Linked DNA regions of Homo sapiens. The protein of the gene in region 2 binds, or shares a complex with, the protein of the main gene of each other region. Each region holds a gene or a part of one and is shown on either strand. Other genes may lie near its edges. A codon is read from its position in the direction of its gene.

Region 1 (16,795 bases), about 29 Mb from region 2:
CAGGGATGTGGGGAGACATTACTACACAGCACTTCCCAGCTTTGACTGACATTGACACCTTCACTATCTCCAAAGAAAAAGTGCAGTGAAACTGTGCAAAATGCAGTCTCAACCCGCCATTACCCACTGGCCTCCCTCCCCCAGTGCCATTCCTCTCATTAGCAGCAGTTTCTTCTACTGGGAAAGATGGAGTGGGGGATGCATGGGCAGGACCCGCCATGCCTCCTGCCGGTGTTGGGGTCATGCACACAACCCTTCTGCTGCTACCTAAATATTCATAAGCACTGCCTCTGCATAGAGAGCACATCTATATAGGAAAGAGCACTACCCTACCCTCATCCATTTTACATGAGAGAAACTAGAGTAACCACTATAAAAATACTCCCTTTTCATGAATGTGCTCCGGACAGCTATCAATGGACAGGAAGCCTGTCTTTCTTGTGCTGGTGTAGCCAGCATCTGGCAGTGCCCACATATACAAGACACATAGTAAGTATAAAATTGGTGAAATTACAGTTGCATCCTGCTGTCTAAAGTGACTGGATTCTGTGGCATTTGTGTCAGGAAAATAAAACCTTACCCTTCAAAACATCCGCTGATGGTTGGTGTTAAATGTTGCATATCAGCCCTCAAGGGGCCAAGGTGCAAAGTTTAGTTCATAAACGTGGTATGCATTTACATTTTTACTATTAGAGGCTGTGAAAAAAAAAAACCATTGATAGAAACATTTAAAGAGGATAGCTGTTCTTTATGAGCTTATGACTACAACTCAAACATGTACCAGATGTGATAATCTGAATTTGCAGGGACAATGTTGGTCATCTACTCACTTGTGTTAGTGAATGAATGAATGCCTCGAAGTAAACGGACAATTTTAGTCTGTTCCTGACTTACGCACTCAGTCACATGCTGACACTGGCTGACTTGCTGTGTTTCAGAGCAGGACCCACTTAGTGCCCGTGTGCCATGCAGTGAGCAGTTAACAACAGCTGCCGGGGCCCTGTAGACAAGCCAGTAGGGTGGCTTTCAGCACTGTGAGATGAGTGTTGTGCCATCTCTACTTAGAATATGGCTACTTCAGCCAAAGAATGAGTGTTCCTAAACTCCCATGAATTTTTCATGTCCCAAGCGGGATTCCCATCTTTGGTATGTGCTCCAGTGTGTGTCTGTCCAAGCTTACCTTATCCTCCATGCACACTGGACTGACAGCCAGCCGGGTAAGAAGCCTGGCGCATCTTTTATAGTCTACGGTGAAAATATATCAGACTCTTGTCAGTTACTTAAAAAACAAATAAATCGCATTTTTTTGCAAGTATATCAGCTACTAAAGCCATTTATTTCTTCAAATATCTGAATTCCCTGGAAGCAATACGGAGTCTAATCTGCAGGCATGCATTCTAAGTTGTTGACTTAATAATTTATGGTGCTTCAAGGGCTTGAGCTTCAATGGCAGAAGTCGGATGATGTAAGTGGGGCAGCGGAGGGAAGAGGGACAGACACGAAGGCTGCATGGCTGAGCTGGCTGCCCATTGCTTCTCTCAGAAATAACTTCATTTCGCTTCCTACGTGACAATCCTTCCGTACCCTTGTGCTACTTTCAGGTCATGTGCAGGCTGAATCCCAACTTGAGTTGACCATGGGACAAAGCCTTCTGCCTGTAAATTCTAAAGAAAGTGGGTCAAAAGTCAGGCAGCAGAGCAGAGGCCTGGAGTGGATGGCGAGCGGAAGCAATGTGCCCGTTTCTAAGCGCTGGCTGATACTCCTTGGTATCGTACACAGTCTCCCATTCCACTATTCTGACCGTGCTGCCTATAGAAATTAAGAAGGTGTAATGGGCATGGCCATAAGGGAAAATATGTCCTCTGGGTGAAGATCTATGGAAAGCTGCAATAGTTTGTAAATTATTACAGTTTATTTCTCAATAACAAAATCCTACTTAAAAGTGGAAGAATTTATACCCAACTGAAAATCTGAATTGAATGGGTAGATTGACAATGACAAATGTGTACGATATGTTAGTTAAGGAGCCAGCTCTACTTCCAAAAATACGCCTCCTAAATATGGCATATATTGTTAGGGATTTTTCAAACAGAAAATGTTTTTCAAAGGGCCAAACAGTGGCACTGGGTCATCTGACCGCCTGGCTTTCTCTTTCATAAGCAGCACCATGCTTTTTAGAATGTAGTTTTCCTAAACAGATTCCACATCATGGAGGCAGTGGAATGTGTGATTTCAATGGCTGATCTAATCAATGAAGACTTCCACTTGGGCCATGTCCAGGGTCCCAGCTGACCACATCCTGCTCAACCCAGGTGTTTTCAGCAATGTCTTGCAAACCTTCATGTGCAGACCAATCATCTGGGGATCTTATTAAAATGCAGATTTTGTTCAACAAGTCTAGATGGGACTTAGTTCTGCATTCCCAACAAGCTCCCCATGGGACCACACTTTGAGAAGGCACTAAAGTTCCTTCAGGTCTGATATTCCAGGATCCCAAGGATTTTCTTTTATACAGCCTGACGCAGTAAAAAAGTGGTCCAACTTCAGCTCTGCAGTTCTTTATGGGCTAAGAAGAGGCAGAAAGCAACAAAGTGGCCACCCATCTCAAGGCACAGATCTCTCAGCCTTCTCCCTCTCCATGGCCCAGGGTGAGCTGTGATCAGGAGCTTAGTATCACAAAGCCGAGCTGCTGTGAGCAAAAGGAGGTATCGAATGCAGGCACAGCATGATGCCTTGGAAAAAGGCCTGCAGAGTCAACCATGAGATCTGTGCTTTAGCTTTGCTGATATCTGACAGCACAAAAGCAATTCCTCATCCATAAATGAAAAGATGAGACTGAATGACTCAGAGGTCACTTCCAAATTTGGAATCTATGATCCTATTACTGTAAGGAAATAGGTAATATAAAATATATGTACATCAAAACAATACAAACGACAAGATTTTCTGGCCCCAAGAGCCACATTAATGATTCCCAAACAGGTGATTACATTCCAAAAGAAGAAAACAGGAGAGTACTAGTGTGCCAGGTGCACATGGAAGGGTGGGGCCCAGCACCAAGAATATAAAAACTCTTCAGGAAGTGTGTGCTGCTGGCCTTGGCGTGAGGATGATGTTGCTAAAGGTATGGTCAGAGGGGCCGAGGCTGCGTTCCATGCATCTTTGTGCGGTGATGTGAATGCTAAAAGTGCATGTGCCTTAGCCTTGTCCAAAACGCGCTGGTGACGCTACTTCAGTGGGCCAAGGTTCATTGGCATGCACCCGGCACACAGAAGCAGCTCTATAAATGATGGTTATTATTATTTGAAGTAATTTTGCTGCCTAAACAAAGAAAAGCACTTATACTTCGTGTACATTGGCTTTTCGTTTGTTTGTTTTTGGAGAGGGAAGGCAGGACAGCAAGTCCGGAACGCTGCCTGGTCCAGCTGGAGAGCCCTGATGACAGCAGTTAGCAGGATGCCTAGTGTTTCTGCATGACTTTTCTCCTGTGAGCCTTAAATAAAATCAAAGTTGGAGTCCGAATTAAAAAAAATGGGTTAGGGCCCTATCACTGTAGCTAATAAGGCTTCAGTGAAGAGAACAAGGAGCTACTTTTGGAGAAATAAAATGTTTTGTTATGAATAAATAGCCAAAAGCAGGTTAGGAAGACTGAAAAGAAACAGGAGAGAAAGCTACTGCTGAGAGCTATGTTGATAAGGGCAGCTCTGCATTTCTGAAGGAGTGATGGAGCCAGCCAGAGAAACAGTTTTGAAATCACAATGAAATTCCTGGGTGATGAGGTTATAATTACCAATGGGAAGAAAAAGTCTCTGGTAAGAGCAGTGGAGATGATCCAGGTCAATCTTATTCTTGGAGTCAGTTTAGCAACTCATTCTTAACATCTGACTGCCATAGTAGAGTACACACAAACATGGGCATTGGAGGAGAATTAACAGGAGGAGAATCGGAGTTCAGCCCATCCCAAGAGCCTATTATTCCAATGACTGTAAATAATTTCCAGTTTGGCGTTAGCTGATGCAGAAGTTAGTTATCTTCTGCAATGGTCTGGCGATCTTGGCCCCTAACTCCATAGTGAGGAAGGAATAGGCAAATTTGAGCTAAGAAGGCAGGGGCCTATATGAGGAAATGGAAAGAGGGGAACCGCTGCCTGCACTGCTCTTGCATTTTATAAAAATCCAATGCTGTTACTTACATGCAGGAATGGTGCAGTCTCTGGTGTTGTGATAAAGTCTATGGAAGTGTTTGCTGCACTTTGGACTAAAATAAAGAGGGCCTGGAACACGGAAGAAGAAACAGATCATGAAGACTCACAGGTGAAAAGGAGCTCTGGGAGACGTGAGGAACGAGGAGAAAACTTACCTGTAAGGTGTTTTAGAAACTTGTCCTTCATCCTCAGATCTCGAGGAACAATTTCTGTTTCAGGGAAAAGAAAGTATTATATTACCTGAAGGACGCATTTTTTAAAAATGTGATCTTAAGTGAATGTTGAAGAAAATTGGAGCTCCATATTAGCCAAGTTGCTTTGCACAAAATAAAAAAGACTGGGGCCCTGGATTGCAACACACGACAGTGAAGAAGACTCAATATCAGGGACATTTATTTTCCTTGAAATAACAGTAACTGCTCCTGAAGCTCCAGGATTATGTCGGCTGTCTACCCCGTGGGATGCAGACAGAGACCACGAAGTTACAGAGGTAAGAAAACTGTTTTTTTTTTCTTTTAAACATTTAACTTCCAGTGAATAAGTCACTTTTAGGCACTTTAGTTTTAAGGACCTTGGGAATCAAATCCCACAACATTTCAAAGTTTTTAGAGAAAACCTGACCCTTCAAACAAAAAAATGGGTTACAGAACATTACTTTATCTAGATACATATTTAGAGTAAGGATTAAAAGACCACGTTTCAGTGAGGTGTAAATTAGTGGGAATATGCATGAACCTGGTTTGTAGGGTAAGAATCCCAGGGAAAGACTCTGCCAAGCAAACTTCTTCCACCAGGGTTCTCCGCACACAGTGGGTGGGGAGAACCCTGCAAGGGCGTTCTTCTTGAGTTCAGCTTTGTTTTTGCGTATTTACAGCCCTCTCCATCTTCACTCCCCCGTTCAGGGCTCCTGGCTGAGCCCCGACTGTGTGTGAAGTCACGCCCTCTGAAGAGGAGCATTCGCATCCACAGCTGACCCCCTAGTGAGTCTTCATTCACTCCTAACTTGACGCAGCCGGGATAAAACTGACCTTATCATGTTTGACCTGATTGTGTCACAAAAGCATTAGACGCTTTCATGCTTTCCTGGGAAATTCCCCGTGGGCCACCACTCTGGGCAGGGCCATGAAGGAGCCTGGATGCTTCCTTTTCAGTTGGGAAAGCTTTGCTGGAAATGCTTCCATTTCCAAAGTGACGGTTGACAGTTTAGTGTGGAAACCACCGACCCGCGCCGCAGCTCACGCGCGCCAGAAGGAGACCAGGCGCTTCTCCGCCAGGCCTCATGCGCGGACCTATTGCTGCTATTTTCTTTTTCTTAAAAAAAAAAAAAAAAAAAAAAGGAATCCTGCTGTTCAGTGGTCAAAATTGATGTCTCTTTTTGAAACGTGTTTCTCAAAGACAATTCTATTTCCCAGCAGCCCCGGCCCTCGGGCGCGCTCGGCCCCACTCACCCACTCGCTGCTCCGGCGAAGGCCCCAGCCCCGCCGCCTCCGCGCGGCCCAGGGCGCAGTCCCGCCCGAGGAGCTGCAGGCCCTTGTGCTCCGCCGAGTGGTGCTTCCGCAGCTCCTGGACGAGTTCCACCACCAGCCGCAGCAGCGCCTGTCCGTCCGCCGGCTCCCGGGGCTCCGCGCCCCCCCGGCCGCGCCCCGCCGCCCCCAGCACCAGCAGCAGCCCCAGGAGGAGGGGGTGCCCGGGTCCGCGCATCGTGCGCTCGGGGCCGCGGGGCTGGGAGACTCCGACACGCGCCGAGAGCTGGGCTCGCTGCGAGAGAAGGGGCGCGGGGGGCCGGAGAGAAAGTCAGCGGGGGAGGGGGACGGAGCGCGGGGCGGGGGAGGGGAGGGGAGGCGGGAGGAGCCGCTGGCGCTGGACCCGGCCCCTCACCTCCGCGGACCCCGAGGAACAAGCCGGCAGGTGAGGGAGCCGCGGTCTCCTCGACGATCACGCCCGAGGTCCCGCCCACGGGGAGCGACCGCCGCTGGTGCGGAAAGGAGCCCCCGGAACCCGCCCGCCCGCCAGCCCGGCCCCTCCTAACTTTCGCCCGAAAGGCCGCGTCCGCCGAGCGCGCTGCGCCTGGCGCGGGCGCAACTTTCTTTCCCCTTTGGAAGCCGCGGGTGCCAGGCAGCTCCCCGGCCGCGGGCGGACCTCGGAGGGGCCGCGCTCCCGCGCCTACCGCTCTCCAAGAAGGCGGCGCCGCGCGCCGGGCCCGGCGGCCGCGCTCAAGTTTCCAGCGTCGCCTTTGCGCGGTGGTCGCCGGCGAGCGCCGAGTCCCCGAAGCCCACGGAGGAGGCCGGGTGCGGACCCTCGCGCTGGCCCCGGCCGCGCCACGTGCTGGAAGCCCCTCCACCTCCCGGCCATGGCGCCCTCCCGCACCTGCCCGGCGCCACCCGGGAGCCACCTGCGCGTCGTGGCCGGGCCGGTTACCTGGAGCCGCCGGAGTCGTCGCCGTCTGTGCGCACGTCTGTCCCCGCGCCCCGAGCTGCGCCACTACTCCATGCCCGGCGGGCGGAGCGCACGGGACGCGGGGACTCGGCCGCTCCGAGCGCTGGACCCACGGCCGACCTGGGGTGCGCCGGCTCCGAGTCCCGCCTCAGACCTCGGGGAGCTTCTTATCCCCGCGCCCGCCGACGTCAGGCGGGTCCCCAAGGGCTCCGAGCGGGGCTTTAATTAGAAGCCGCTGAAGTGTTAGTACCCCCATGCGGATCTTCGTCAGTCCCCCCGCCTCACCTCGCTCTCGCCTCCCCCCGTCTCCCGCTCCCCCTCAACTCCGCCCCCGCCCCCGCCCGGTCCCCCCACCCGCATCTCCACCGCGTCTCCCCCTCGCCCGCGCCCCGTCTCCCGCGCCCCTTCCCTCCCCACCTTCCCCATCTCCCGTCTCCTCCTCTCCTGCCCCACCTTCCCCCACTCCCCGTCTCCTCCTCTTCCCCCTGTTCTCCTCCCCCCGCCCCTCCCCCAGTCTGTTTCCCTCCGTTCCTGTCACTTGTGACAGGATGAGAAGAAACGCCTTTACCAGGAACTCGGTTCTGTTTTTGTCTAAATGTAGATCTTGGGCTATTAAAAAGGGAGCTGCCTGATTGCTTCGACATTTAATAAGTCAATTAGAGTCCATCCGTTTTGGAGGGATCCGCTCTCCGGACCTCGAGGGGTCTGCCCCGCCCGAGCCCAGTCCCCAGGTTCGGGTCCCCAAGCCCTGGTCCCCGAGGCGGGGCGGCCAGGAGGCAGGAGATGGGCGGGTGAGGACTCTCCACGGCCCCCGAGGTGCGCACAGCTGACCACCCGAGGAGGGGCAGGACCTGCACCCCCTCCCCAGACCCCCTGCGAGAGGACGAGCGAAGGTCCCTCCCCGGCAAGGACCGCGCCATCTGCGCGCTCCTCTGCGCTGGACCCTCGGCCCGCGGGTCCCTCGCGCCCCGGCAGGGAACGCCCGCAGGAGGGCACTTGCCTCCCGGACTCGTCTTTAAGAAAGTTTGGCTCTTTGGCCGAAGCCCGGCACATCTGTGAAAGTTCAGCAATTTGCCTCTTTTATTTTATTCTTGTAAAATGTATTATCAATCAGTTGCGCACTTTCCCATTCGATTGGTGCTTTCTGGGCAAGAGCTGGACGTCTTCCAAGTCCGCGATCTGTTTGGGAAAGGTGTTCTGAGTGCAATCAGAGAGGCGGAGTGGGCGAGAATTAAAGGCCTGCACCATGATCGGGGCAGTCGCAGGACCGCGGCGGGAAGGTGCTGGCCCAGGCGCACGTGAGCGCGGGCGGTGCGGGCGGAAGGCTCCGCGCCCCGATCCCCCAGCTCCCGGAGAGGCCCCGTCTGCGCCCGTCCCCGCGTCCTTTCTCTCTTCCTGCACGGGGTCTGTCTCCTCAGGAGGAGAAAGTGTCCGGCAGAGCTGGGCGGGGAGGCAGCGTGGAGAGAGAAGATATGAAATGTGCCGGTTCCGGACCCCGCCCCACACCCTTGGGATCTGCGTTCTCTCCGCTCCCTTGAAAAACAGATGGTTTGATTTCACAGCGAGGCTTTTCTTTTTCTTTTTGCAAGCTACATGACTGAAATGTGAACATTTCTGCTAAAATACACTCAGGAAAAAGTAAAATTTTATGTCAAACAGACCTTAGGCACATAAAAGGAGGCATTTTTCGTTTCTCTCTTTCCCCTTCCCATGTCCAAGAAGACACTTGAGTTCCACGGGCAAGAGCGACGCCTGGCGATGGAACCGGCCCTCCCCGGCCCTGCTCCCGGTCCTGCTTGCCGGGCCCACCTCGCAGCTGGTGGACACCGCAGTTCCCAGAAAAATAGAACCATGAGAAGATTTTACTGTTGTAAAATAGCTTGGTGTAAGACAGTTTTTCAAAAAAATCTTTGTATGGTAAAAAGAAGAAAACACATTTCACGTATTATTTTAAATTTACATAGACCTATTAGAATAGTATTTTATAAAATCAAAAGCTAAATTTCTTCTATAAAATGCTAGTAGGATCTATTTCCCCCAACACACACAAATTCTACCTACCGAGGAAGCCTTGCTAGTAATTAATATTATGTCTTTTCTTTTGCAGTTTTTAATGGGACAAATGGATTCCTTGAATGAGCCCTTTCTACCATCCAAGTGTGGGCCAAGACTTCCGCCCAGGTTAGTAGAGGTTTGGTGGATAATCAACAGCAACAGAGCTGATGCTTGGTTGGTCTTTGGATTAATGAGATCTTACAATTAAGAGTCAGACAATTTATGTGTTCATTTATTTTTACAAAGTTCTCTGCCAAAATTATCTAGGTGCTGCTCATTTTATATTATAGAAACAATTTTTACAGACTAACAAACTTAGAGTGTACCACCGATTTGTTAATCTTTATTGAATTTTTAAGTTAATGGTATTGTCAAGACGAACCCCTTGGAGTTCTCCAGTCATCAGAAATAGGTGTGCAGTCATCCCTTGGTATAGCGTGGGACTGGTTCCAGCAGATACCGAAATCCAGGCACATTCACGTCTCACAGTGGGGCCTGTGGAACACGCAAATACGGAAAGTTGCCCTCCCTCTGTGTGCGTTTCGCATCCTCCAGCTGCTGTGTTTTCGACCCACGTTTGAAAAAAAATATGTAAGTGGACCCCTTCAAACCCGTGCTTTTCAAGCAGGAAGCCAAAAAGAAAAGAGATACAATTAGCAACAAACTATATTCTAGAATTACTGGAAAAATTTTTTTCTAGATTTGATTTAGTTTGGTTATCTTTTTGAGAAAACTGTGTTGGATCATAGGAAGAAAACCGAGCAGAGGAAAAAAACCTGTATTTAATCTACCCTAACAGTACTATATATAGGTCCTGAGATGGGTGAGTTGATTTTTTCAATTCATAAACAGGTTAAAGTTCTGATGTTTTGACTGCAATCATTTTTTTTCTTCATCCAGAGGGTACGTATTTAATTTTAGATGAATATTAGCTGCCCTCAAAGACTTCTAAAATACCTGTGTTAACCACATGCTTTAAAATGAATTGTTATATTTTTCAATCATTATGGCAATCATTTAACAATCTAACGAAGTTTGTATTGTAGAAAAAAATCACCTTTCATAAAGGATAACATCATGTACTATAAACAAATATTGCTTACTGTTTAATATTTACCAATTCTGCTTTTTTAAGCTATCAAAATGCTATTAGTGTGCTAGGCACGTACTAGACAGTGTTTAAAGCATTTAGGAAGACAAGCTTTCTAACAGGATTAATTTTCCTAGTATAAATGTAATAAATATAGACTCTTACAAGTGATAATGTATGCATGATATCTGCAGCTTATTCTAGATCAATGAAGTACAGCATTCTATGTAACACTTCTCCCCTTCTAGGGAGGAAGAAGATGATTCCAAAAACATGGTCATCCACCCCTTCCCATTCTTCAACACTGCTTTTGCATCTGCAGATGCACACGGCTATGCATGTTCAGGAGAGAAATTAGGTGAAAGTTGTATTTAAAGGGTTGGGATAAGATAGCATGGCTGATTTACTTTTTTAAAAAATTTATTGTTCCAGGCCAAGATAAAGAGGACTTTTCATGGGGAAAGGCTTAAAGGAAGTATGGACTTTACGTTGTTCCTTCAAACTGGATTTTAGTTATAAATTCTGAAACCACTGTGATGCTTACTTGCCATTTGGAGGCACCAATCTGACATCTTTTGATGGAAGTAGTAAGAATAAATTTGAAAGAACACACCAATCATCAACATATCAGAAAAATATTATCCATGACAATATTTCAACAAAATATAGTCATAGATGCTGAGTAACAACACCAATATATCTGCATTCCATCTGTTTTCTGCAGGAAATCAGATATCCTGATCAGAAGTGACACACACAATGATCTAGGTTCATCACAGAGACATCCAAAGTGTCATAAAGGCACCACCTACCAAAGTGGGTTGTTGTTTGTTTCTAGGATAAGCTAAGCACAGTGATGGGGATGCCTCCTGGATAGAGGGAACTGCATATGCAAACTTCCAAGGAGGAGGCCCCAGAACCTCTTGGATCTGCTGGGAAGACTGGGCTGTAGGAAGAGGGTGGGAGGAACAGATGGAGAGTCACCTCACCTGAACTCCACTTTCTTTCAAGAATGCAGCATAGCGGACTGCAAAGGACGTGGGCTTCAAAGCCACAGAAATGGGCTCAGGTTCTGATTCCTGCTCACATCTGTGTGAACCTGGGCAAGACAACTTCTTTGAGCCCAGTTTTTTCATGTCGGAAATGACAGGAGTACGTACAACCTCAGAGGTTTTATAAACATTAAATAAGATAAAGTATGTTAACTTTTTAGTATAGTTTAAATTTCTTTTAACTGACCAATTATTGCTATTACTGCCTTTCAGAGTGTCTGCTGTCATAATGGCCTCTTTTTTCCTGTATTTTATCCCTTACAATATGGCATGAAAGAGAGCATTATCCAATCCTAGAGAATGTCTGGGGCATCAGAATTTGGTGACTTGTTCACAGCTGCATAGAAAATCTATAGTTAGAAGTGGACTGAAATATCCTGAATTAGTAAGTTTCCATGTGACCAGCACTCAGAACAGTGGGTGAGGGCTCAGTCCAGTGGAGTAGGATTCAGACCTGTGGGTGAGGGCCCCTGCTGCTGCCCCAGGCCCAGTGCCTGTGCTGTTAGGATGGTATATAAGTGTGGTTGGCTAGGATATACTAGGGCTATGAATTCATAAGAACAGTCTATATTTTGCTCACCTGACCCTTCCTTAAAACCGTGGGGACATTTCAAGACTGCTGTCTCTGATATTTTTGCCACTATTATAATGCAGTCCATTAGGCAAAGAGTGCTTGAGACACTGTCTTAGTCCATGTGTGCTCCTAGAACAATATATCATACACAGGTAGTTTATAAACAACAGGAACATATTCCTCACAGTTCTGGAGGCTGGCAGTCCAATATCAAGGCAGGCTGGGTGTTTGATGAAGCTCCCCTTCCTCGTAGATGGCGCTTTCTCTCTTGAGTCCTCACAGGGGCCCACCTTCCTCACAGATGGCGCTTTCTCACTGAGTCCTCACGTGGGGCCCGCCTTCCTCATAGATGGCGCTTTCTCACTGAGTCCTCACACAAGGCCCCCCTTCCTCATAGATGGCGCTTTCTCACTGAGTCCTCACACGAGGCCCGCCTTCCTCATAGATGGCGCTTTCTCACTGAGTCCTCACACGAGGCCCACCTTCCTCACAGATGGCGCTTTCTCACTGAGTCCTCACACGAGGCCCGCCTTCCTCATAGATGGCGCTTTCTCACTGAGTCCTCACGTGAGGCCCGCCTTCCTCATAGATGGCGCTTTCTCACTGAGTCCTCACACGAGGCCCACCTTCCTCACAGATGGCGCTTTCTCACTGAGTCCTCACGTGGGGCCCGCCTTCCTCATAGATGGCGCTTTCTCACTGAGTCCTCACACAAGGCCCGCCTTCCTCATAGATGGCGCTTTCTCACTGAGTCCTCACACGAGGCCCACCTTCCTCACAGATGGCACTTTCTCACTGAGTCCTCACGTGGGGCCCGCCTTCCTCATAGATGGCGCTTTCTCACTGAGTCCTCACGTGAGGCCCGCCTTCCTCATAGATGGCGCTTTCTCACTGAGTCCTCACACGAGGCCCACCTTCCTCACAGATGGCGCTTTCTCACTGAGTCCTCACGTGGGGCCCGCCTTCCTCATAGATGGCGCTTTCTCACTGAGTCCTCACACAAGGCCCGCCTTCCTCATAGATGGCGCTTTCTCACTGAGTCCTCACACGAGGCCCGCCTTCCTCATAGATGGCACTTTCTCACTGAGTCCTCACGTGGTGGAGGGTGCAAGGGGACTCTCTGGGGTCCCTTTTCTAAGGACAATAATCACATTCATGAGGCTCCATCCTCAGGACCCCATCACCTCCCAAAGGCCCCACCTCCTGACACCATCACTCTTGGGATCAGGTTTCGGCACAAGCACTTTGGAGAGACACAGACGCTGAGACCACAGCAGACAGGCAGCACCAGTGTAAGGCAGACCAGTTACTGGCCCCGGGAGAAACGGGAGGCAGGGGTGCCCAACCGTTTGGCTTCCCTGGGCCACACTGGAAGAAGAAAGAAGAAAAATTATCTTGAGCCACATGTAAAATACACTAACACTAACAATAGCTGATAAGCTATAAAAAAAATCACCAAAGAAATATCATGTTTTAAGAAAGTTTGCAAATTCCTGTTGGGCACATTCAAAGCTGTCCTGGGCTGCATGTGACCCATGGGCCATGGGTTGGACATGCTTGGAAATGGACGTCAAACAGAAACAGTCTGCACCTCCAGGAAGGAAGGGAGAATTTGTGCTGAGAACTTTTGATTTGCTCACACATCCCATAGCCATTGCTTGAGTCCTCGGGTGCTCAGGGACAGAGGGGAGAAATTCTGTCCACAAGAAACCTGCATTGTTTGGTGTAGTGTGTCCCGTGTGTCGTGTGCTCCTGGAGTCTGGACGGAGTGTAGGGTGTGGGGCCACTCCCTTGAGGCTGGTTTATGGATGAAAGGGGCAGGGAATGCACATGTAAAGAAGCCAAGGTGCCGGGTCACAGTGCGCTTGGAATGTGTGAGGGTCCCTTCTGCAACAGAGTGTAGGAGAGAGAAGAGGACAAGAGGCTGTTCTCAATGCCACTCTCAGTACTCTGAACTTCATCCTGCAGGCAGTGGTAAATGATTGACAAGCCTTGAGCAGGGACCAACATCATCAGATCTGTGTTTTATGGAGGTAGCTATGGATGATGGACCAAAAGGGTTTGGGGCCGTAGGCAGACAGACCAGTCCTGCCTCCTTCTGCCCACCCTCCCCCATGGGCAGACAGGCGAGCAGGGGGCTTTCTGACCCTCCCTCCTTCCGTCAGATGCTGTCACTAAGTAGAGAGATGCGAAGTGTCCCCCGTGTCCAGCACTGCACCAGGTGTTGCAGGTGTGACAGTCCCTCCTGCATGGTTCACTTGCTGCAGAAGGTAAACACCAGCAAACAGATAACTATATGAAATAGTAGGAAGTTATAAAAAGAGCATGGAAGAAAGAGGGAAGAAGGAAGAGAGACAAATGCTGAGACAGAGATGAGATGGTGAGGGCGAAGGGGACCTACGTCTGATAAGGTGGTTGTAGAATCATCTCTGAGGACAAGGTATCAAGGTATTTGAACTGAAACCTCAGCATGGATGCAGCCACATTTATAGTGATGCAGGCGAAAAAAGGAGGAGGCTCAGAACTGGGGCATGGAGATGAGGATGGAGAGTAGAGAAAGTCTTGGCTTCCTAAGAAAATCATCTTTTTTAGAAATCACCTGTTTCATCCTGACATTGGCATTCCCAGTATGAACATTTCTGTAAGAGCATTTAAAAGTCCCATTGAAAACATAGCCGTGATCTTGGGACCATGTGTAGGCTCCAAAATTTAATTCTTTCCTCCATTCAGCAAAAACTGACCATGTGCCGGCCACATCCTGAGCATAGTTCTAGGAGCAGGCACACATACTGCGGTGAGCAAAGTAAGTTCCTATTACTTGGCTTATTGAAGATGTAACTTTAGCCTACGTGGACAAAGAAATAGACAATTTCTAAAAACAGATACAATACAAAATGAAGCTTTAAATATGAGCACAACACCCTATTCTGCTTTGACTGGGAGCTGAGAATGACAGTTGTTAAGCCAGACTTTTTTTATTGCTACACACGTGAACGGGAGGGCATCTCAGAGGTGATGCAGTGCTGACAACCAGGTGTGATACCCTCACATGTACAAGCACTGTGCATTTCAGAGGTGACCTTGTGCTGACAACCAGGTGTGCTGCCCTCACCATGTAAAAGCACTGGGCATCTCGGGGTGACCTTGTGTTTACAACCAGAGGTACTCTCCTCACTGTGCAGTTAGGCACTGGGCGTCTTAGAGGTGACTCTGTCCTGATAACCAGGTGTACTCTCCTCACTGTGCACAGGCTAGGGCTAGACATGGCAGGGACCCAGGTGTGTGCAAGGTGCAGCGTTTGTGCCATGGGGAGGACCTGCAGGTCCATCCACCTCCCTATTCCAGTCCTCAGAAATGCACTAGGGCACAGTGGCAGTGGGGCAAAAAGCTCTTTGTGTGCTGTGATGTGAACCTCAGGGTGACTCCAAACCTTATCGTGCTCCACGTTCTCTTAGGCTGCTGTCAATAAATGTTTGAACAATTTCTCGTAGATGTCTTTGAATATTTCTATGTCTGTACCTCCTCTTTTGGCAATGAGTTCCATAAGTTTACTCTTCATTACATAAATTACTTTCTTTAATTTGTCCTCAGTATAAATCAGATGTGTTTAAACATGACCCTGAGGTTTTCTCTTTGTCTTTATGTGCTGGTAGCTGACACCTTCAAAGTGAAGGAGGAGACTTCTGTTTTGTCTCAAAATGAATGCAGGTACTCTTTTGTTTTTAATTCTGATAAAACATATGTAACATAAAACTCACAATTTTAACCATTTTAAGAGTACAGCCCTGTGGCATTAGGTAAATTCACAATTTTGTACAACCATCATCACCACTGTTCAATTCCAGAACTTTTCATCATCCTGACCAGAATCTCTGGACCCGTTAAACATTAGCTCATCATTTCTCTCTTCCCCAAAACTCTGGCAAAAGCCATTCTACTTTTTGTTTCCATGGATTTTTTAAATTGACATGTAATAATTGTATTTATGGGGTACAGTGGGATATATTGGTGCATGTGTACCATGTATAATAATCAAATCACTCTAATAAGCATATCCATCATCTCAGTTATCGTTTCTTTGTGTTGACAGCATTTAAAATCCTCTCTTCTGCTGCTTGAAAATATATAGTCAATTACTCACCCTATGAGAAGACCAGAACTTCTTCCTTTGTAATTGTAGGTTTGTTCATGTTAACCAAGCTCCCTCTGCCAGCACCCCACTCCCATAACCACTGTTGTATTCAGCACGTCTGTGAGCTCTTCTTTAGCTTCACATATAAGTGAGACCATGCGGTGTTTTTCTTTTTGTGTCTGTCTTATTTCACTTAGCACGATGTCCTTCAGGTTCATCCATGTTGTTGCACATGACAGGATTTTCTTCTTTTTAAGGCTGAGTAGTATTCCAGTGTGTATTTAGCCACATTTCCTCTGTATTCACCTGCTGTTGCTGTCAACTTGGATTGAATCCGCATCGTGGCTATTGTGAATAGTGCTGCAATAATCGCGGGGTGCAAACATCCCTTCCATATTGTGATTTCCCTCCCCTTTGATAAATATTCAGTAGGAGGATTGTTGGATCATATGGAGGCTCTGTTCTCAGTTTTAGCTTTTTAGTGGCTGTACCAGTTTACACTCCCACCAGTCATGTGTAAGAGTTAAGGAAAGGCTTTGAGTCAGAGAAGACCAGCCAGGGCAGCTGATTTTGATTCCTACTCCGACACTCATTGTGGCCACAGCCAGTCCCTGAGGCTCTGGGGTTTTAATCTCCTCATGAGCAAAGTGGGGCTGCTCTCCCTTTCTTTATAGTGTGTAGGTCTTTTTAAAGTATTGAATAAATTAGTAAATATAAACTTTCTCTATAAACTAAGCAGCTGGCTATGTTTTTTTTTCATACTGTTCATAATTTAGTTGACTTTGACCAAATACATTCCTGGTTTTCCTTTAAGAATCCTATGTCTCGGGGACTGTGTTTATGTGGTAACATTTTGTGTTTTTGTTGTCTTAGAACCTGTCATGGTGAAGTAGCGATTACAACTTCATTCAGAGTGTCACAATGCATATGCCACCACTCAGGAATTTGGGTCCCATTTAGTTGTCATCTCTGCTTTCACAGAATCTGGGGCCCCCATCAGTAGTGACTCCCAGGCTGTGCTGCTGAATGGACAGAAATCAATACAATACATCAGATGTAGTTCATGTATTTCTCTCTATATATGTTCAAATGGAAATTCACCTTTCTTTACAGTTTTGAGGGAGCATTGGCAGTATTTCTGCTGTGCTGACACCATCAACAGGCCTGGCTTTCAGCGGCGCAGTCCCTCCCCCAGCTCGCAGGTTTAAAACTTCTGTCATTGACATGATTGTATATTTAGAAAACCCCATAG
Region 2 (14,555 bases):
CCTGCACACACACTCTTGCTTGCCGCCATGTAAGACATGCCTTTGCTCCTCCTTTGCCTTCCACCATGATTGTGAGGCCTCCCCAGCCATGTGGAACTGTGAGTTCATTAAACCTCTCTTTCTTTATAAATTACTCAGTCTCAGGTATGTCTTCATCAGCAGTGTGAGAACAGACTAATACAGGCACTAAGAGGTGCAAATTGTCAACTGACAAAAAGAAAGTGCATCAGATATACCATCAAATATTAGGTGTGATAAAAGATAAGTTTTATGGTTTTACTTTGCTAATAAGGTTCCCATTATAGCAAATGTAATGAAAGAGAAATAAGTGATGTGGCACTGAAAGCATGAAAGTCATTAAATGGACATGACTCATAGTTCTGCCGGCTTTGCTGCTTTCTGGAAATCATCCCTGATTAATCTCGTTTTGCTATGGTAAGGATTTGATGATTTGTTAAAGAGATCTTTGAATAGAAAGATCTTTGAATAAACAGGACTGATACTAAACTCTCTGGTCTACTTCTACATAAAGATTACATATGATTTGTCTCACTGGGATAAGAGTTAAGGTCAAGGACACATGCACACACCAGTGATGCTCCACTGATAATGACTGGGTGTTGGAATTTACCTTACACAGGTGAAGTCCTACAGAATCATGGACTTGACAGTTAGAAGGGGCCTTTGAGACCAAAGCCTTCTATATATATCTCTATGTATATAGAAGATGGAGTCTTGCACTGTCACCCAGGCTGGAGTGCAGTGGCGTGATCTCCACTTACTGCAACCTCCGCCTCCTGGGTTCAAGCGATTCTCCTGCCTCACCCTCCCGAGTAGCTGGGATTACAGGCACCTGCCACCATGCCTGGCTAATTTTTTGTATTTTTAGTACAGATGGGGTTTCACTATGTTGGCCAGGCTGGTCTTGAACTCCTGACCTCGTTTTTTAAATAAAATGAGAGTTTCAGTAACTTGCTTGAGTCAGGGAGGTAGTAATTGCAGTCTAGTAGTGGTAGGTCTCTTAACTCCTGCCTGGTCTGCTTGCTGTTTTCTCAAGTAATTGATGAATGCTAAACCATCCGAGATGATATAATCATCTGAAGTTTTATCAATTTGATATTCATCTATGTTAGCAAATACCTCTTCTAATATGTAAATATTGTAGGGAGAAATACTACCCTAGCTGCTAAGGTTTCAATGTGAGTTTGTTTAATAAGACTGTCTTTCACCTAACACCAGCTGAAATGAACATTGAGTGATGGAGGAAAAATAACTGTGGGTTAGTTCTCACAAGGAGGCAATAAGTCTTAGGAAATTGATGGGATGGGGAGAGAGCCCGAGGATGTCAAGAAGAGGGATATAAGAAATGGACATGTGAAGGCACTAAAGACTAATTTTGGTATTTGTGCTTTTTCTGAGGTTAGACTTGTAGTGCCATCTTTCCATGTCAAGGGTAACACACCTGTTTTACACTTACTGCATGCTGAAGAGAGGAAGGTGATTCCTGTAGTTTTGTGGTCATAGTTCATGTAACTTCCCGTCCCCCGCACCCCCCGTATAGTAGTTTGTTCTTACCAAGTTTTTCAAATGTTTTACAGTTGTTAGGCTACGGCTAAAAAATGTTTTGCACCTGAGTAGTGCATCAAAAATTAAACACCCCCATTCAGGACACCAAATGAAAGTAGAATCTTAATAGAAGCCTTACTATTTGCTCTCAGTAATGATCTTGTATTTTACAGCAGCATGTTTAGGATTACGGGAATGCTGGTTTTGCTTTTTCATGCAACAACACAGGAGCCATCTGCTGCAATGAAATTAGCAAAGTCAAATTGTGTGTTCTTTAGGGACTCATTTTAAAAACCATTAAAGACAGATTGACAACACACTTCATACAATTTTATGAATCTTGTCATGCGTAGCCTGTTATTTAGAGTAACCTGAATTCAAATGCATCTCCTTTTAGGTCTGTAAAACTCATACGGATTTTAATCCTGCTATTACTACTGAAAACCTATTAAAATGGCTTGATCATTAGAATTTCTTAGTGGTGTGCTATGGGAATTTGGATATAAAGGCCCATGTTTTACAGAATAAACTTTACTGTAGTTACATAATACCTTACAGCTATAGGGTTTACTAAGTACTATGTGGAGATGCCAAATTTTTTTTTTAAAGAATTACTGAAATTGTGGTAGAAACTTTATGTTCTTCTTTTGAGCTGAAAAGGAGTTGGGTTCTGGCAGGGTTCCTGCTACTGTCATTAGAGTTAGGAGGAGGAATAAGTGCTGGTGTTCAGTTGCACAGTCGGGTGACTATGGTTAACAATAGTGTATATTTCAAAATAGCTAGAATAGAGGATTTTGAATGTTCTTACCACAAAGAAATGATAACTATAGGAGGTGATGGATATGCTAAATGCCCTGATTTCATTTATATAATATATGCATGTATTGAAGTATCACATGATACCCCATAAATACACATGATTATTATATGTCAAAACAACAAAACCAAATGACAGATGAAGAAAACATGGCACAAATGGGAAGAGCCAAGAGGGCTGGATGTGAGTGGGGACAAGAACCACTGCTGAGCACGAGGGCAGGGAGGCATAGACATACCTGCCCCCACACCCAGCCCCACCTCACCTGGGGGCTGCCAAGGTGTAAGAGGGGGCGCCTGTGCTTTCACATAGTGCATGATCTCCCTGAGGAGCTGTGAGGAAGGGAGGTGATTGTCCTCCTTTTATGTCTGCAGACATTGAGGTACCAATGGGTCAGATAACTCAAGGGGAGTCAGAACTCAGACTCTAACTGGTGGAAAGAGAATCCAGCCTTTTAACTACTGAGTAGAGCATACTCTTTTTAAAAAGTTTATTCCTGCTAGTCTGAATTGCTATAATCCTGAGGTACAACATATTAACAAACTGGTCATTGCTCACAAATTGCCAGCTTCCCAGTGGAACAGTTGTGAACTTTCGATGGGCCTTATAGACATAGGATATAAATAATTATGCTAGATTACGGTTTAATTAGCATAGCTTCTGCAAACTTTAATTGTGCCCGTTCATATTCTGGGTGGAACTTTCTATCATGGTTAATAACTTTATTAAAATCCATAGCGTCTGTATGAATTGTAGCCATGTGCCTGGAGCAATATTCGAGTGGACCATAGTCCAGATTAATACCATGCTGATACCCATGGGTTACACCAAGTTAAATGAAACATCTTCAGGTCATCGCATCTCAGTGTGGAGTTGTTTATTTACTTATCCATGTATACAAGCTTTTAAGACTTGACTATTATTTACATGAAAGTTGATACCAATAAGGACGATTAGAGAGATCAACAAATCAATCTCAGTGGTAGAAAGGCACAACCTGAAAATGTAATGGATTTGTCGTTCTTAAAAGTGGAAAGAAGTAATATTTTCCCCATGAATAACAATAAAGAGATGGCTATTTAACCAGATAGCTTACTCCCAGCTTAATTGGTTACTGATGTTACAAATCTAAAATGGAGGTGTTTTTCTCAGTTATTGACAACTCCTCTGTCAGTATCCTTTAGGAAGAGTGTTTCTCAAAGTGATATTCTCGAGCCCCTTCAGATGGTCTGTGAGTTAAATAATGTGTATATGATTAGGCTACTTTTGTGCCTGGCATGAACCAGAATTTTACCGATACATTTATTTAGAGATGAGTTCATTGATGTTTCATCTTCATGCATCTCTGATGAAAATATTTTTGGCAGTTAAGCAGATAAGGAAGGTAGCCTCTAGCCATCAGTGCTTTTACAGTTGTACACTCTAACTCCAGGGAAAGGCAACTGCCTTCAGAGAAAGGAAGAGTTGTCTGGTGTTGGCTTTTAACATAATGGCTTTCCCACGCTGAAAGTGATGCTTTTGACGCAGGTGAAACTGAGAAGGTCAGAAAAAGGTATGTATATATATACTTTTTATAATATACACACACATAGTCCTTTTGTTTGGTAATGTTTAGTAACTAGCAAGTAATAAGAGAATTGCTTTCCTCTTGAATGCTTTGGTGTAGCTACCAACAGGAAAGAAAGTGGGCGTGAGGCTAGAGGAGAAGCAGAAAGAGGATGAAATGAGGACTTACTGATAAAGCATTCTAAGCATTACACACATAAGTATGTGTGTAAAATTAAACAGATTCCCAATGCGTTTTCATGGAAGTAAAATTCATCTGTGAAAACCAAGTTCAGAACTCCCACTCTAACATGTCAATGTCAACCTCAACTCTCCAAGGGTTCCACAATTCCTTTCCTCATCGCCTCCTAGGGAAAAAATTCTTTGTTTTAATCTGCCTTTGACAGCTATACAAATTATGCGATGTGTATTTCAGCACATTTATGTTCCCAGTGTACTTGGATCACATGAGGAAGGGAGAGAAAACGCAGGTTAACGGTGAAAGGAAAGAGACTGGATCAGTGCCTCTCCTTAGGACCACCAGCGGCCTGTTCCTCCCGGGGCCCTGTCCATCTCTACAGGTACAAACTTGAGTTTGGTAGTTCATTCCATGACTGAAACGAATAGAAGGTTTTGGCCTAAAATGTATTGACGCTTATGCCCACAAATGGATATGTTTCCATGCTTCCATGTATCACTGCTGCTTAAAATTTTTGCTTTTAAATGATCAAAATTTAATTAGTGGAAATTTTTTAAATAAGTAGTTTAAATCTTGAGTTTTAAATCCAGTAGGAAACCTCACACTCAGTTTTTCACTTCTAGTAGGAGGATTTTCTTAAGGCATGAGGTATATTTAATAGGATGTTTGAATCTCTGGATCTGTATTGGTGCTTTATCCTACTCAAAGCACTTGGAATGTATGCATTTCATTGAGATGAGTATATACACACTTCTGCTATACTACTGGAACTACTCACGACATTTTTTACAATTGGTGATGAATCAGCACAATTAAAAGCATCTAACCGTCACCTAAAGTGACATTTCAGTTGTCTATGATTTTTTCTTTTTCAAGTAAAGAATGTCTTTCCCCATGCTTAGTCATTACAAATAACTCCTTTATTTCCGTTCCCTCTCCCCTCAAATGGCTCATGTCCACATCAACAAGGCAAGGAAACATCTATGACCCCAACTATGAAACATAGAAGCAGCTAATTCTGACTACATTGAAGCAGAGCACACACAATTTGAAAGAAGCATAAGGAAGTATACAACAAACATGCATAAAAACCTTATGCAACCACATCTGGGCCTTGTATTTATCACTCATTTTTATGATATTTTCTTCTTTCGAAAGAATAGGATGAACCCATGCTCAAAACCTTTCTAAAGCATTTTCAAAATACAGCTTTTTTGGTGGTACTTCAAAATAGGTTGGCACAAAACAAAACGTGACATTTGGTCTCTGGTTTGTGAAGGAGCCATTGCCTCTCTCTCCTCCACGGTCTTAGGGATCCCAAGGAAGAGAAGTGAGTGTGCGACCGAGCTCAGGGCCCAGGCTGGTTCATGCTATTCTTGCTTTTCAGAATGGTATCCTCGTAATGACCAGCTCCAGGGGCAGTAGCGGCTTCTAAGGGCAAGCCCTGTTGCTGGTAGCCGTAATTGACATTCCCACAAGGGAAGTGACGTAGCCTGAACAGAGGTACCTCCTTCATATTGGCAGTCAGCGAAGAGGGCTCTAGGAGCAGTGAGGCCCCCGGAAGTCTCCCAGTTGCAACGTTAGGTGGGACAGTACAGCTTCCCTCCAGCCCCAGGTTACCCCTGTCGTGTGGCTCCTTCTTTGCTATAGGATTATTCTTTTTGGTGGGTTTCTCTGTAAACCAGGAGCCGTACGTTGGGTTCCACAAGCTGGTGGGCTTGTTTCTGGATCCGTGGACCTTGTGCAACTCCGAAGGAGGGTTGGACTGAGAGAATGCCATATTCACGTGTCCCCCTTCCACGGCCGGCCCTCTAGGGACTCGAACAGAGATCTCTGCAGCTGTGGGTTTCTTTGCAGCCTTGCCAGAGGAGGTGGTAGGCAGAGGTGGTGGGGCAGCTGGGCTGCGCTCCTCCTCCCGTTTTGCCTGTTGAGAGACCAGGAGAGGAGGAACCCCCTCAGGGTCCTTGGGCCTCACAGGCACTTTCTCTTCCTCTTCCACAAGTGGACCATATTCTATCGGCAAAGCGGTGTTGATTACATCCGGGTCCTGCCGTAGGGGAAATTATTAAAACTTTGAATCAGAGACAAAAAATGTTGGATCTAGAAGATACCTTAGAGATGATGTTATCTAAACATATTCTACAGATGAGGAAACCAGGATTTATTGAGAATATAGTAACTTACAGGCACTGGGGCATACAAAATGAATGGGAAGTCATCCTTATCCTCAAAGACCTTAGAGGATAAGCGCTATAATGGAAGTGTGTATGGGTGCCTGGGACAGAGTGGAGCAGGAAAAGCTTTGCAGAGGAGGAGACCTTTGGCCAGTTTTTAAAGATTAGTGGATTTAAAAAAAAAATTAAGATTATTATTTGTATTATTCCAGTCTAGTTCCACTAAAATCGTTCCAACTGGAAAAAATAAAAATAAAAGCCTATGTGTTTGACTTCAAGAGTGATGGTGGGGGGCTGGGGGGAGGAGGAGAGGAGACACATGCCATGTTGGCCTACAGGGTTTATTTTTTGATCTCTTCCCAGCTGCTTTCCATTTCCATTTGGGTACTTTACACTTGATTGTAAGTTTTCCTGTGCCACATCATCACATGTGCAGGTACCACAGTGCATGTTTTTGTGTTTGTTTTTTAGAGACAGTCTTGCTCAGTCGCCCAGGCTGGGGTGCCATGGCTCAATCTTGGCTCACTGCAACCTCTGCCTAGTGGGTTCAAGCCATTCTCGTGCCTCAGCCTCCTGAGTAGCTGGGATTACAGGCATGCACCCCACCCCCCCACCCCCCCACCCCCGCTAATTTTTGTGTTTTTAGTAGAGACAAGGTTTCATTCAACATGTTGGCCAGGCTGGTGTCGAACTCCTGACCTCAGGTGAGGCACCTGCCTCGGCCTCCCAGAGTGCTGGGATTACAGGCATTCTTTAACTAGTCTGGATGTGAGGGACCCTTTGCACAACCCAGGAAATGCTGAAGTGCTGTGAGGAAAACCATTTACAAAAACAACTGTGTGCTAGATCATTTTCACAGTAATAGACTGTAACATAGAAGAACAGAAGCAGCTGCCAGAAGTTTAGGGAAAATTTGTGGAAGAAAAATTAAATTTGGAGAAATTAATTAATATTTTATGCAAATTGAGAAAATACCCTCATTACCTGAGTAACAGAAAAACACGAGTGTTCGAGTTTAAAAAATAACTACCTCTGACTCATTAAAACATTCTTTAGTTCCCTCTGTGTTTTAGTAATTTCTATAGTGAATCAATCATTTTAAATATGCTTGTGTAAAACTGCCTTTTAAGAGGGATATTATAGACTATTGAGAAAAATACTCCTAAGAAGGTATATATGTTTAAGTGGGTGTATTCCATTCAGATTACAACAAAATAACCTAATGTCATTAAACAGAGTTCTCTGAAAGAACCTTCAATAACGTGATATAGGAAGTCTATAGATAAAAATGCCAGTTCACTCACGTGAGCTGAAAGGAATAAGAGGATGGAGTAGTGAGGCTGGAAAATGACTACAGTTTGAAAAATGTGTCTGTCTTTAGTCACAATGAAGAGGAGGGGATTTAAAGAAATAGTAGGTAGGCCAGGTGTGGCAGCACTTTGGGAGGCCGAGGCGGGTGGATCACTTGAGGTCAGGAGTTCGAGATCAGCCTGCCAAAATGGTGAAACACCATCTCTACTAAAATTACAAAAAAAATTAGCTGGATATGGTGGCACATGCCTGTAATCCTGGTCACTCAGGAGGCTGAGGGAGGAGAATCGCTTGAACCCGGGAGGTGGAGGCTGCAGTGAGCCAAGATGGCGCCACTGTGCTCCAGCCCGGGCAGTAGAGCGAGACTGCTCCCAAAATTAAATTAAATAAATAGTGGTTTATTGACTCTTCTAAAATATTCTCAGAATTAGATATCCTGGCAGAACGAGAACCAAGAGAGAGGGAAAGAAAGTGAATACAGGGAAGAGGAGAGCATCGGACAGAACAAAGCCCTGAGCAGGCGATTGGTGATACTGGCAGCAAGGCTGGCCTTGAAGGGGAGGAGAGACGGGAAGGCAGGTGGTGAGAAATGGCGGCAGAGGCAGAGAAGTTTGTATCAGAGACAGGGAGGAAATGAGGGCATTCTCTTATGATGATCTCCACCCTCTTGGTGAGGGAGGAAGCATAGCTGTCGGCTGAAAATGAGGGAGAGAAGCAAAAATTTCGAGTCGTTATTGAAGGAATGGGAGAGGGATCTGTAGAGGAACCCACAGGATTGCTAGAAGAATGTTTGACTTGGACAGACTCTTCAGGCCTTAACTCCTCATCTATAAGGTAGGGATATTTTACATTCCCCACTAAGGATAAAACGAAATACGCAAAAAGTGATTTGTGCAGTATGAATGATAGCAAGTATTATTGATGATGTTAAAATTTCTCCAGATTACTTTGAAATTTCATTCCCTTAATCCTCCTGACATATATAGTTGGACATATAATCTATCAATTTTATATGCAATTAATTACTTCACATGTTGTTATTTCTCCAGCCAGGCTCTAAACTATTTGAGAGCAGATGTGTTCCATACGTCTGTGAAGCTTCAATTTTGGCTACTAAAACATTAGGTCCCCAGTAGGGACTTGATAAATTCTCGTGGACTGGATTGATTCCCCAGTTTTTACTGTGTGTCTGGCACTGTGCTGTGTGCTGGTGAAGTTACTAATATTTATTTTACAAAATGGGCAAATGGAGACACCAGTCATTTCATTTTAGAGAAAATTAATTTTCACTATTTTGATCATAAATCTTGTACTCTGACTGGCTTGACCTATTTCATATTTCGGTATTTGCCATCTTTAAGACTGTTTCATATAGAGTAAATGTTGACCAAAGGGAGAAAATGTTTTACCTGGGTGCAGTATTCAATCCTCTCCAAAATGATGGCAAAGTTGGGCCTGTCTTCAGGCTGATGTTGCCAGCACTGAGTCATTATCCGGTATCTAAAAGAAGAAGCACATTAATTAAAATAAGGAGAAGCACAATGATGAAAAATATATTTTCTTCCAGCCCCAGGGTTGCAACGAATACGTTGAGGGTGCGAACTCGTCTAGGCCCCGTGTACTTGGCCTATGCTGCCCCCTGCTGATTGGTCAAGGAAGAGTGCGCAGGTGTAAAGGTATCTAACACAGACATCCTGATGTTTATGTTAACCACGGCTGCTGTCACTCCATTCCTGAGTTAAAGCCACTTTGGGGACAGAATATTCCAATTATATTTCCCATCCACGTTGCTTGTGGGAAGGAAGTGAGGGGTGCCAGGCAGGGCAGGAGACATTGCAGGGAATGGAAATCTTTAAAGTAGACACAGACATACGGTGTAGGGCAGCAGGGACTGGGCCTGGGACACACATTCCCAGCAGGAGCTTGGGGAATGTAGGCCTGGTGAGTCCACAGCCTGTAGCCAGACAATGGATACTTTTTCTGGGATGGCATCCTTGCTTTTGAGGGCCTGGGAGACGCATCCATCTCACTGAAGTCGCAGTCACATTCGCATCTTGGGGCATATTAAAGGGAGGGCAGCCATCTGCCCCTTCATCTTAAAGAAGCATATGTGGCTCTGGATATTTTTTGAAAAGAAAAACTGCTTAGTAACTAGCAGAAGTGTTCCTAAAAGAGTCATACACAGGCCCAGGGCAGTTCTTGGGTGGGTCCATCCGGCCTCCACTGGTGACAAACTCCAGAACTTCCTGGTTGCTTTTGCTGGGGTATGGCATATATCCAAGAGAAAAGATTTCCCATAGCAGCACTCCAAAGGACCTGGGCATGGGACAGAGGACATGGAGATGGATATAGACACACCCACCCACATTCACACACACACACAGGCACACAGACATACAATTTCAACCTTTTTTTCCCCCATTATACCCTTTTCCATAACATAGAACTCTTAAAATGTAGAAAAATTTAAAAAATAAGAAAATACTACACATGATGCTCCCTTAAAAGACAACCCCTGTTGATTTTTAAGTCGTTTCTGTGCTGAGATTTTTTTTCACTTATTTGCAGTTATATTCAATATGCAATTTTGAACCTTGACTTTTCTGCACATTTCATTATATCATAAACATTTTCCATGCCAGTCCATTTCATAAATAACATTTGGAATGGCTAATGGCTGTAAAACATTCCATTGAGTAGTTGGTTTGCCTTATCATTTCCACATTGTTTTCAGTTTTCAAAATATTTAAAATACTATAATGAACATCTTTGTGCATTTTTTAAAAGGAAGATTTCCTTAAGATAAAGTCTCTGAATTACTAGATTAGGATGTCCAGCCAGCTGATTTCATAGTCTCTTACAGTTCTCTGAGCTTCAGTTTCATCTATCAGATGCCCACTCATCAACTTCACTGGCCTATTTTAATAGGCAACTCAAATTTAACATGCCCAAATGGAACTCTTTCTGTACACACATCATCTCCTTTATTCTTTTCCAACTCATCAGCACCTCTGGTTATACATTTGCTCAAGCCCAAAACCTAGGAGTCATCCTTGATTCCATTCTCCCACACCCCTCCACTTCCCATCCAACAGTCAGCAGTCCTATAACTTTCAAGATAGATCTTGAATCCAGATAGGATAATCTAGTAATTCAGGGTAATTACTGAATTAAAATGTAGGCTAATTCTAGTAAAATAACTAGATCAAAAGACTATGAATATTGACAAATTCTTGGTGCATATTATTTGGTTTCCAAATGTGTTACTCTGTTCATCTACCAGCACCATGTAAAAGCGTGGTAGACACACTCACCAGCATTGAGTATTCTTAATAATAATGACAACTTTTGCTGATTTTAAGGGAAAAAATGGTAGAATATTTTAAATTATGTTTATTGACTTGATAATTCACATGGTTGGATGTTTTCCCAAGTGTTTATTAATTCATTTCACTTTTTTTTCCTATGAATTGCCCATTTTTATCTGCTGGGACAAATTGGTATCTATCAATCAATTTTCTTTTTGATTTGTAGGCACTCTTTATATGTCAGAGATGTTAACCTTTTATAAAAAATTCAAATACTTTTATTAGTTGTTTTCTTTTTTTTTTTTTATGTAGTCTCACTCTGTTACTCAGGCTGGAGTGCAGTGGTGCCATCTTGGCTCACTGCAACCTCCACCTTCCAGGTTCAAGTGATTCGCCTGCCTCAGCCTCCCAAGTAGCTGGGATTACAGGCGCCCACCACAACACCTGGCTAATTTTTGTATTTTTAGTAGAGACAGGGTTTCGTCATGTTGGCCAGGCTGGTCTTGAACTCCTGATCTCAGGTGATCCACCCACCTCGGCCTCCCAAAGTGCTGGGATTACAGATGTGAAACACCGCACCTGGCCTTAGTTGCTTTCTAATGCTACTTTTTAGCATACCAAAGAAAGATTTTTATTTTTAGATAGTCAAACCTATTTTTTTAATGTCATGATTTCCTTTATTTTATAGTTATACAATCTTCCCTTCACCAAAGATTAGATAAATATTTGCTATCTTCTTCTAGTTGTGTTTGTTTTTGCTCTCTTCTTAAATCTAGTTGGAATTTAATTTGGTGTCTAGTGTGAGGTAAGGACCTAAATTGATTTGCTTTTCAAATAACTACTCTTCCAACACTATGCATAAGATAATTTCCTCCTTACCCATTGACTCACGATTAAAAACAGGTCTGTTTCTGGCTATATTTTCACTTCATCTATTTGTCTGCTTCTTGCATTGATACCATTCTATTTTACTTTCTGTGTATTTGTCTTAAATCTGAAAAGGCATTTTTCTCTATTTCTCTTTAAAAAATATTTGATTTCTCATTTGTTTTTTTAAAAGCTTTATGAGATGAATTCTTCGTGTTCTAAAAGAATCACCTTTGATATTTTGATTAAAACTTTAAACCACTACCTAATGATCAGCTTTTTGACAAAGACTATCTTTTAGTGTGATTGTAGTTTTCTGAGGTTAGCAAATATTACCACAAAAATTGTAGAGAACAATAGTTCCTTCATCTTCTAAGAAACATGGGGTGCTTTTATTGTCATCATCTGTGTGAAATTTCAAAGACTCTTGTGAGAAGGATTGGGCAAAGATATTTTCCCTATTTTTCAGGTGAGAAGGTTGAAGCACAGGTTATTATACAACTAATCCGAGACAGACTGGAATACATTATTAGATCTCTTGATTTTGCTACTTACAAATTGCCTGGCACATATATTATTCCTTTCTGTTTGGAGATCTCTTGATTTTGCTACTTACAAATTGCCTGGCACATATATTATTCCTTTCTGTTTGGTGATCTTACTTCCCTTCAAGGCAAAACTAACTAGGCAAAATCAAATGAACAAGAAACTGGCAGTAAGGCCTAAAGAATTATAGCTATATGTTTTCTGTTTTTCTAGATAGATATAGGTTATAGCATCCTTTGAGAGCACTAATAGAACTGCACATGAATATTTATTTTCTTAGTTTAGAGTTCAAGGGAGCAAGAAGTAGTATTGGTCATAGAACTTTGACAATTTTGAATAAGTAGGATTTTCATATTTGCAAACAATACCAGATACCTAGTTAAATTTGAGTTCCAGATAAGCAACACATAGTTTTTTTAGTATATGTATGCTCCAATATTTATACTAAAAAACTATTTGCTGTGCATCTGAAATTCAATTTCACTGACCATTTTGTATTTTATCTAGAAACCCTACAGATGAGGCAAATCTATATTTTGTATGCCAGATGGTTCTTTCATCACCTATAAGCCTGCCCTAAACAGGAGCGACAAAAGCCCAAAGCTTTGCACCAGAGCATTTAAAATCAAATATACATACGTATATATGTATATATATACGTATATATATACGTATATATGTATATATATACGTATATATATGTATATACATGTATACATATATATGTGTGTATATACATATATACGTATATATATGTGTGTGTATATAGATACGTATATATATGTGTATATATATATTTTTAAACTTCACTTTCTTTTGGTATTAAACTTGCTCTGCCTGGAATGATTGATAGAAATAATAGCAAACATTATTGCTGATTAAACTGTTAAACATTTGAATCGATGAAGATAATCTGATAAAAGATTTTAAAATATCAAGCTGTTCTGTATCAGCCTTTAAAAGCTACATTTTTCTCCTTAATCATAACCTGAAAGGAGGTTATGATTAAAGAAAAAAAAAAACATTGTGGAAGATGGTCTCCAGGTGTGATAGAGGTTATGCTCTTAGGAAAAATGGGAGCCAAAAATTAATATCTTTAAATGTCCATCCAGTGGATTCCAAGATCTCATACACCAAGATCTCATACAGTTCTCTGATCTTTAGTTTCATCTATCAGATGCCCACTCATTAGCTTCACTGGCCTATTTTAATAGGCAACTCAAATTTAACATGCCCAAACGGAACTCCTTCTGAACCCACACCATCTCCTCTTTCATTCTTTCCCAACTCAGCAGCACCTCTGGTTATGCATTTGTTCAAGCCCAAAACCCAGGAGTCATCCTTGACTCCGTTATCCCACACCCCTCCACTTCCCATCCAACAGTCAGCAGTCCTGTTAACTCTACATTCAAGATAGATCTTGAGGCCGGGCGCTGTGGCTCATGCCTGTAATCTCAGCATTTTGGGGTCTGAGGTGGGCGGATCACTTGAGGTCAGGAGTTCGAGACCAGCCTGGCCAACGTGGTGAAATCCCGTCTCTACTAAAAATACAAAAATTAGCTGGGTGTGGTAGCACGCGTCTGTAATCCCAGCTACTTGGGAGGCTGAAGTGAGAGGATTGTTTCAACCTAGGAGGCGGAGGTTGCAGTGAGCTGAGATGGCGCCACTGTACTCCAGCCGGGGCGACAGAATGACAGTCTAAAAAAAAAAAAAAAAATCTTGAATCTGACTACTTTGCGCTACCTCCACTGCCACCACCAAGCCACATCGCTCTCCTGTTTCTCTCAGCTAGCAATGTGCAGGATTTTCTTAACTGGTTTCTTTCTTCACTTACCCACCTCTAGTGTAAATTCAGTGGCAGAGAGATTTTTTTTATAAAGCAAAGATCATATCACACTCCTGCTTACAACCCTTCAACCGGCATCCCATGGTGTTTAGAATAAAATCCACATCCCCCATCTGAGTTCCAAGGCCGTCTGTGTTCTGACCCATCCCTTCCACCCCTATTGGCCCTGGGCTCCCTTAGCTCCGACCATCAGGACTTGATTTCATTCCTCAGCAAGCAAGCTAGGCTCCTTCCTGCCTCTGGCTGTTCACACTGGCTTTTCCTGCAGTCTGGAAAGCCTTTCTCTCAGATCTTTCCAAGGCCTGCCCTTTCTTTCAGGTATTGAAGTTACCTCCGGTAAGGAGCTTCCCCCCGCCCACCTTTGCCAAAAAAACCC

What was found.
Region 1: the proteins of ALK (region 2) and ALKAL2 are in contact, whole or in part, in a cryo-EM structure (PDB 9G5I), measured with the Homo sapiens proteins. Residues at the interface, in NP_004295.2 of Homo sapiens: Leu684, Tyr739, His755, Ser758, Leu760, Phe856, His857, Glu859, Leu965, Tyr966, Thr967, Pro968, Leu970, Lys971, Val972, Met973, Glu974, Glu978, Asn980, Val992, Glu994, Cys995, His996, Met997, Phe1007, Asp1009; in NP_001002919.2 of Homo sapiens: Ser112 (codon at 4,247), Lys113 (codon at 4,244), His114 (codon at 4,241), His116 (codon at 4,235), Arg117 (codon at 4,232), Leu118 (codon at 4,229), His120 (codon at 4,223), Asn121 (codon at 4,220), Thr122 (codon at 4,217), Arg123 (codon at 4,214), Asp124 (codon at 4,211), Arg133, Arg136, Leu137, Arg140, Leu141.

The regions. Positions count from the first base shown.
Region 1 is NC_000002.12:281,931-298,725, forward strand, and holds the start of ALKAL2 (ALK and LTK ligand 2 precursor), read right to left. Parts: upstream 6,162-16,795; 5' UTR 6,083-6,161; exon of another isoform or gene 6,035-6,082; intron 5,963-6,034; 5' UTR 5,906-5,962; coding exon 5,653-5,905; intron 4,695-5,652; exon of another isoform or gene 4,414-4,694; coding exon 4,360-4,413; exon of another isoform or gene 4,274-4,359; coding exon 4,193-4,273; exon of another isoform or gene 3,999-4,192; intron 1,246-3,998; coding exon 1,181-1,245; intron 1-1,180. UniProt on the Homo sapiens protein: Cytokine that acts as a physiological ligand for receptor tyrosine kinases LTK and ALK, leading to their activation. Cytokine-binding is sufficient to activate LTK. In contrast, ALKAL2-driven activation of ALK is coupled with heparin-binding to ALK.
Region 2 is NC_000002.12:29,187,749-29,202,303, forward strand, and holds the end of ALK (ALK tyrosine kinase receptor isoform 1 precursor), read right to left. Parts: intron 9,929-14,555; coding exon 9,794-9,928; intron 9,113-9,793; coding exon 9,022-9,112; intron 6,175-9,021; coding exon 5,476-6,174; 3' UTR 5,026-5,475; downstream 1-5,025. UniProt on the Homo sapiens protein: Neuronal receptor tyrosine kinase that is essentially and transiently expressed in specific regions of the central and peripheral nervous systems and plays an important role in the genesis and differentiation of the nervous system.